Linked DNA regions of Homo sapiens: region 2 is reported to be linked to region 1. Evidence: microRNA targets listed by miRTarBase, many of them from high-throughput screens and not tested one by one. Region 1 holds a microRNA gene; the other region holds the end of a gene's coding sequence.
Evidence for each region. Region 1 holds the annotated microRNA hsa-miR-6786-3p (UGACGCCCCUUCUGAUUCUGCCU, at 1,634-1,656, opposite strand). A microRNA usually pairs through its seed, bases 2 to 8, with sites in the 3' UTR of a target mRNA and lowers its output. Matches are read on the target gene's strand: a 7mer-m8 pairs with bases 2 to 8, a 7mer-A1 pairs with bases 2 to 7 and ends in A, and an 8mer does both.

Region 2: miRTarBase lists ARHGAP35 as a target of hsa-miR-6786-3p. Seed matches in the 3' UTR shown: 7mer-m8 at 1,321-1,327.

What each region holds. Positions count from the first base shown.
Region 1 is chr17:81,692,500-81,695,499 of GRCh38, reverse strand. It overlaps MIR6786 (microRNA 6786), which reads right to left and starts at 1,743; the gene lies at 1,631-1,743. It overlaps HGS (hepatocyte growth factor-regulated tyrosine kinase substrate), which reads right to left. Exons shown (of 22, transcript NM_004712.5): 9 at 1,919-1,997; 10 at 1,748-1,846; 11 at 1,535-1,630; 12 at 647-685; 13 at 433-576; 14 at 277-336. RefSeq lists a silencer at 2,639-2,824.
Region 2 is chr19:47,000,085-47,003,588 of GRCh38, reverse strand. It overlaps ARHGAP35 (Rho GTPase activating protein 35), which reads right to left. Exons shown (of 7, transcript NM_004491.5): 7 at 1-3,258. The coding sequence ends at 2,901. Among named protein-coding and RNA genes, the nearest start is that of NPAS1, 18 kb to the left of the region's middle. RefSeq lists enhancers at 1-382, 383-1,128.

The DNA.
Region 1 (3,000 bases):
CCAAGGACTCATCTGATGGTTCTAGGCTGCTCTGGAATATTCAGGTCCATGTTAGGTCCACAGAGAGTGGCCCGAGCTCTGGACCACAGCCTGGTGTAGAGTTTCCATTGGGAGAGGCCACAAAGGGCAGGGCAGGGCAGGCCAGGGCTGGGCTGGGGCAGACACCCTTGCTCTAGCACGGCCCTCTGGTTAGGGCAGGCACCTGTGCCATGTGCCTGGCGCTGTGGGCCAGGAGGCCATGTTTTGCCCTGGCCCGTGGAGGGAGCCACAGCTTACCTCACTAAAGGGGCCACCAGAGGGAGGAATGGGCTGAGAGTCTGTCTCCGGGAGGGGGTTCTGGAAGAGAGAGAATGAGTGGGGCCTCCAACCTGTCCCGCATCCACCCCTTCCAAGGGACCCTGCCACTAGGAATGCCGGGAGTGGCCCCCTCACCTCCACCACGTTGGTGGGGGCTGCGTGCCCTTCCCCAGGCTGTGCAGCCGGCTCCGTCAGGGGCACGGGCGCAGATGGCGTGGGGCTCTTGCGAGCCTCCTCCTGCTTCTTCTCCCAGTAGTTCCGGTTGAGATACCGTGCGAGCTGCAGGCAATGAGGGGGTCACTCCCAAGGCCAGAAACCGTGAGAGGATGCACCCCATGCTGGGCCTTACCTCAGGGTCGATGTCCTCAGCCAGAGGCGCCGACGAGTTCTGGGGAGAAAAGGGCATCTGAGTCTCACAGGTGACAGAGCCAGTTGCTTCGGCAGGGACAGGGATGTCCCCAGTGCGACAGATCCTGGAGACCAGAGCCGCAGCCTGGGCCCTCCCTCCGTGCCCTCCTCTGGTTCCTGGCATCTGAGCAGCCATCTTTTCTCCTCTTCCAGATGCTTAGAACTCCACAGAGGCTGACAGCACTGCCGTCCTACAAGGCTCCTAACCTTGCTATGGGAGGAACAGGGTGGCACTGGGCCAGCCCTGGGGCCTCAAGGTGGACACTGGACAGCCCCCACGGTCCAGCGTGTGGGGCCCCAGCCGACAGCCCGGAAGGAAGGGAAGAAGGGAAGGGGTGGCTCACTGGGGCAGGGCTGTTCTGCACCCCTGGGCCTGCAGCGGCCTGGCCACTCCACGGAACCTACAAAATGACTTTCTCAACCTGCTGTCCCCGACCCAACCCCCTGCAAAACAGGCTGCCTCTTCACCCTCTACTGAGAGCGGGGCTGAGGCCAGGGAGAGGTGACGTGGATGCCCCAGAAAGCAAGTCCTTCAGTTCCTGTGGGGCGGGAGGGGTGTGGAAGAGACGGGGTCTCACCAGCAAGGCGCCTCCCCCACAGCCTGTCCCATGTCCTCAGTCCCAAGGGCCGAACCAGGGACCAGGAGCAACGGGTGCCTGGAGCCGTGGGGCTCTGCCCTGATGTCCGCCCGTGTGCTGGGGCTGTCCTCTCTGGGAAGCCCGGGGACCCGCATCCCCCACCAACCTGACTAAATCAGCTCAGGGACCCGCGTCCCCCATCAACCCTACTGCCTTCCAGGAGAGGGAGCTCCAGCCCAAGGGCCGCTCACCACAGGTGAAGAGTACAGGCTGCTGGCGGGGGGCGCTGAGGAGGCCGAGGGCATGGGCTCCGCCTTGGGGTACGAAGTGTACGTGGACTTCTGTCTCTGAGGCAGAATCAGAAGGGGCGTCACTTGGGTGCACGTGACGCCCCTCCGGCCCCACCGCAGCACATCCAGGGGAGCTGGGCCCCTCCTGAGGCCGCCCCGCCCCACCCGGCTTACCAGCCTCTCCTTCTCCTCCGCCTCTGACTGTGACAGCGCCAGGGCCAGCTGCAGCTCCTCCTCCTCCTGCAGGGCCGTCTCGTCCCTCTTGGGGGGCAGCTGAGGACAAGCGGGGAGGGTGAGGGGGGGCGCCGGGGAAGAGGTGCCCACGGGACGGAGGGGGCTGAGTACCTGGGACTGCTGAGACAGGGGGCTGGTCAGGTACTCGGGGGGCAGCTCAGTGGTGGAAGTGGCCTTTCCCTCCGCTTTCCTGTGGGCACAAGGAATGCTGCAGGTCACCATGCGCTGACACCGCCCTGCCCCCGCCAAAGCTCTCAACCACACCTCTGCGGGCTCCTCTAAGTGTCCCCACAGAGTGAGGACAGTGGTTCCACAGCCACAGGTGTCCGAATGGCCACACTCCAGAGCAGAGCAGGGCAGGACTCGAGGGCATCACACCAGCCACAAGGGCTCGGGTGAGTCCCTCAGGGTAAGCCCCAGTTCCTCTCCTGAAAATGGACATTCAGGACACCAGCCCGGCCTGCGAAGACCTTCCTACGGCACTCGGGAAACCAAACACAGCACCGCCACTGTGGGACGGGCCCCACCCAAGAAGGGGCAAACAGGTCAGTGACTGTCATGCCCAGTAAGCTCTTCCGGGGCGCCCCAGGCAGTCCAAGGGCCGCAGGCTCACAGCATGGTCGCAATTTCCAACCACGCACGCTGACCTTTGACCTGGGGCTCTTTTCTTTTTTTTTTATTTGAGATAGAGTCTTGCTCTGTCGCCCAGGCTGGAATGCAGTGGCGCCATCTTGGCTCACTGCAATCTCCGCCTCTCAGGTTCAAGTGATTTTCCTGCCTCAGCCTCCCGAGTAGCTGGGACTACAGGCATCTGCCACCAAGCCCGCTAATTTTTGTATAAAATACAAAAATTTTAAGTATAAAATACTTAAAAAGTAGAGACGGGATTTCACCATGTTGGCCAGGATTGTCTTGATCTCTTGGCCTCGTGATCTGCCCGCCTCAGCCTCCCAAAGTGCTGGGATTACAGGCATGAGCCACCGTGCTCGGCCGACCTGGGGCTCTTTCCTAAGAGAAAAGTCCACACCGAGGCAGACCTGCACAGCCCCCAGCACAGGGAAACGGCAGCAAGTGTGTGTGAAGGCAGGAATGGCGCTGGGATGCCCTGCCATGGAGCCGCTGGCTCACAGCAGACTCACGCTTGTGGGCAGTGGCTGCGACGGACGGGACTTGACGTGGCTCAAGGCAAGTTC
Region 2 (3,504 bases), not on the chromosome of region 1:
CAATGCAGAGTAAATGTGTGCCGTGACACCCAGTATGCGACACAAGCCAAGAATTCTAAGTGGATTCACGAGCCACGCCACCCAGCCTTGGGTCTTCCCTCTTCAGCCGTCAGAGCCAGGATCAGTCTCTGGCTTTGCACCAAGGGCTGCTGTCCCCTCACACGGTGTCTGCGCTCTCGCTGGGCAGGGGTGGCTGCCCCACGTCCCCATTCTGGACAAGCCAACGCCCTCCCACCCAGTGCTGAGAGCTGCATGCGAGTCCCATGAGCACCCTCTGTGCACACACCTTCCAGAACTTAGAGCCCCAACAAAAGCGGGAGTGGGGGCAGCATGGTCCCAACAATCCCCAGGGACGCTCCTCTGTGGCTCCCATGCAAGTGCCCATTTGGGCTGCACGCTTCCCTGACCGGACGCTGAAGGCCGGCCTGCCACGACTGGCCATGCCCCTCAAACGACCGAGATGTCCTCTAGTCCCTCAGCCCGGAGCAGCAGATGAGAGGCTGAAGTTAGCGGGGGAAACAAGAGGAACCCTGTGGCTTCCTGTGCATGGGGGCTCCCTTTGGACATAAGCTGCCACAGTCCCTGCCTGCCCACCTTGGCTGACAAGGCGCTGCATTGGGAGTGCCCCAGACCTAGTTTCAGGTACTTCTGTGAGGAGAGGGGTAGAGAGCCCAGGTGCTCCTCCTCACCACCCCCTCCACACTCCTGGGGAAGTCACTGGCCGCACATACATCTGTGGAATCGGGCCAGGTGGCTTGGGACGTGGCTTTTGTGCTCACACAAAAGAGGTGGCAGTGTTAGCTCAAGCAGTGAGGGGGACTGGGCTGCTTTTGCCTGCGTTCACACAGGGACGGCCCAGGGCACCACCATGCTTTCCCTCCACCCCCAATTACGTGAGGAGCTGACCAGGTGAGCATAACCTCGAAAAGGGGGCGGGGTCAGTAAATGGGGCCGTTTCCTCATCTGCTGGGGTCCAGGGCTGGGGGAGTTTGGGAACGTTTCTGCCAACCTCAGCTAAAACGAAACACAGATGTCACCTTCCAGCCAACCCTGGGCCTACAGGGCCAGGCACAGCTCCACCAGAAGAGACAAAAATTCATCATCCAACATTCACAGAAAACACGCCTGAACCCTGGGTTTGTTCTCCGATTTGTGTTCCTCAAAAGGCGGTAAAACTTGCAAGGTTAGGTGTTTCCAAGCACCTTCGTTGGCCATTGAGAACTGGAGACAGTGAGCCAGCCGTCCCCAGAGGGAGCTCGGGAGCCGAAGGGCCACTCCCGTCTCCAACCACTGCAGGCGGGCACGGGCAGGGCAGCTGCAGACGCCCGGGAAAGGTGTCCATCAGGCCCCCTGGAATACACCACAGATCCTATTTCTTAAAGTGCAACGAGCCCCAAGGGCTGTCTGGCATGGGGCCCTCTGCACCCCACTAGCTCTCGCCTGGGGGGTGCCTAGTGTCAGGCTTCCTGGCCGCAGAGGCCACAGCCCAGCCATGCAAGTTTGAGGTGCTGGGGGGCAGAGGTGGCCAGGAGAAGAGCTTTTCCTGGGGCAGTGGGAAGGCTGGGCTAGGGTGGTGGTGGATGATATGCAGGCACAGCGCCTCTGGGTCAGCGAAGACCAGGAAGGATGCCCCTTCGAGGGCACCAGCAGACCGCCATTCCTTCAAAGTGCCCCACCTCGCCCACATCCCCATGAACACTCCTGCTGGTGGCCTCCATGGCTGGGATGAAACGATTCCACTTCAACACCCAACACACCAACCCCAACCCCAAGTGCACCTGGCACCTTCCAGCTGTCCCCAACCCCCCACCAAGCGCCCACACACACTCACACTCACATGTGCACACACACCCCCACCCCACGCACATGCTCAATTAGTGTTTCTATCGTAATGGACTGTGTTCTGGGGCAGCCCAGGTTCCAGCCTGCACTGCCATCTCCCCAGCTGTCCCCACCAAGGGCTCGAACCCTCTTCTTGGGAAAACGGGGGATCTAGCGACTAGACCTAAGTGGGTGAGTGGGACCCCAGCAGGCCCTCAGGCCACAGCTCCAGGCATCCTGGTTTTGCTGCCACAAAGACGAGGGTCAGCTCCACCTGTGTGCCTCCCTCCCTCCCGGCAGAGGCGGGCACAGAGTGGAATCTTGAGGTCTGTAGTTTTCTTTCTGTGGTTTCTTCCTTTTTAATTACTGGAAGGGTTTTTCCATTTTTTCTCCTAGTGTTCCTTTGTTTGCCAGGGAATGTTTCGGGAAGGCTGTGGAGTGGGACGGTGGGGATGAAGCGGGGAGTCCCACACTCTCTGGGTCCAGGCACAAAGCTATCCTCCGTTGTTCTGATCTGCAGAGCCAGCGCCCTCAGCAGGTACCTAGTGGTGGCAGAGCCGTGGCCTACACGTTCCCAAGGAGGCCGCCAGCCGGGCTGTACCCTTACCTTGGGGGTGTGTGCAGATGGAAGGTGGGAAGAGACAGACCAACAGGAAGTGTTCTCTTCAGGGGTTGCCAGCCCCACCCTGAATCTCAGAGCATCCTCCTCCCCGGCAAAGGCCAGGGCACTGTCCCGACCATGGGCTCTGTACAAGCAGAGGGAGGCACCCGGAGGCTGGTGTGAGCAGCTACGTGGGGTGGTGGTCCAGGGAACAGAGGGAGGGCACTGGAGCCATTGCCTGCCTAGTTCAGTCCTCAAATGGGTCCAAGCCAGCTCAGGTCTGCAGCGCCAGGCCCAGGGTACCTGGCAGCCCAGCCGATGGTACCATTGGCTGGTGCTCCCACTGAGGTCTTGAGAAGGTAATGGGGAGAGCCACTTGCCCCTGCCTCTGTCCCCAGTGGACTTGGTTTTGTTCAAGGCCAAATGCCACCCCGTCAGAGAGAGGACCGGTTCTCCTGTCGCCCCAGGTCTTGGTGGCTCACAGCGTGTGTTCGGCTTGAAGCTGGGAGGGAAGCAGTGGCTGCATTGGGGACTGGGGGGTGGGTGGAGGCGACTGTGGGGGCGACGGCTGACTTGTGACAGGCGTGGAAGTGAGGAAGGGGACGGTGGAAGCCACGGCAGAGGGGGAGCTGGGCCTGGCGCCGGGGGGCTCGGTGATGGGCCGATTGTAGAAGAAGAAGGGGCACTGCTGGATAAAGAGTTCAATGATTGTCTGGTAGGTGCGCGTGGCTGTGAGGGCGTCCATAGTGCTGAAATCAGGTCTCATCAAGGTGGGCCAGAAGCAGATGGAGAGGTTCTCGCTGGTCATGAGATTCACCTTGTTGTTGTGGCTGACCCTGCGGGCGACACCAAACTCAATGGTCAGAACTGTGCAGGGCCCCACCTGGCCCTGGGCGCTCATGGTCTTCAGCACCCAGGCTGAGCCCACCTTTCTTCCCTCAGGTGGAGCAGAAAAGGCCATGCGCAGCTCTCTGTACCCTGCCCTGCCTGGGAGGCTGCGCCCTCAGTGTCCTCTCCCCTCCAGCCCAGTGCCTCTACATGGCCAACCTCGGAAAGGCTGCCTGGAGCCCCGCAAACCCCTG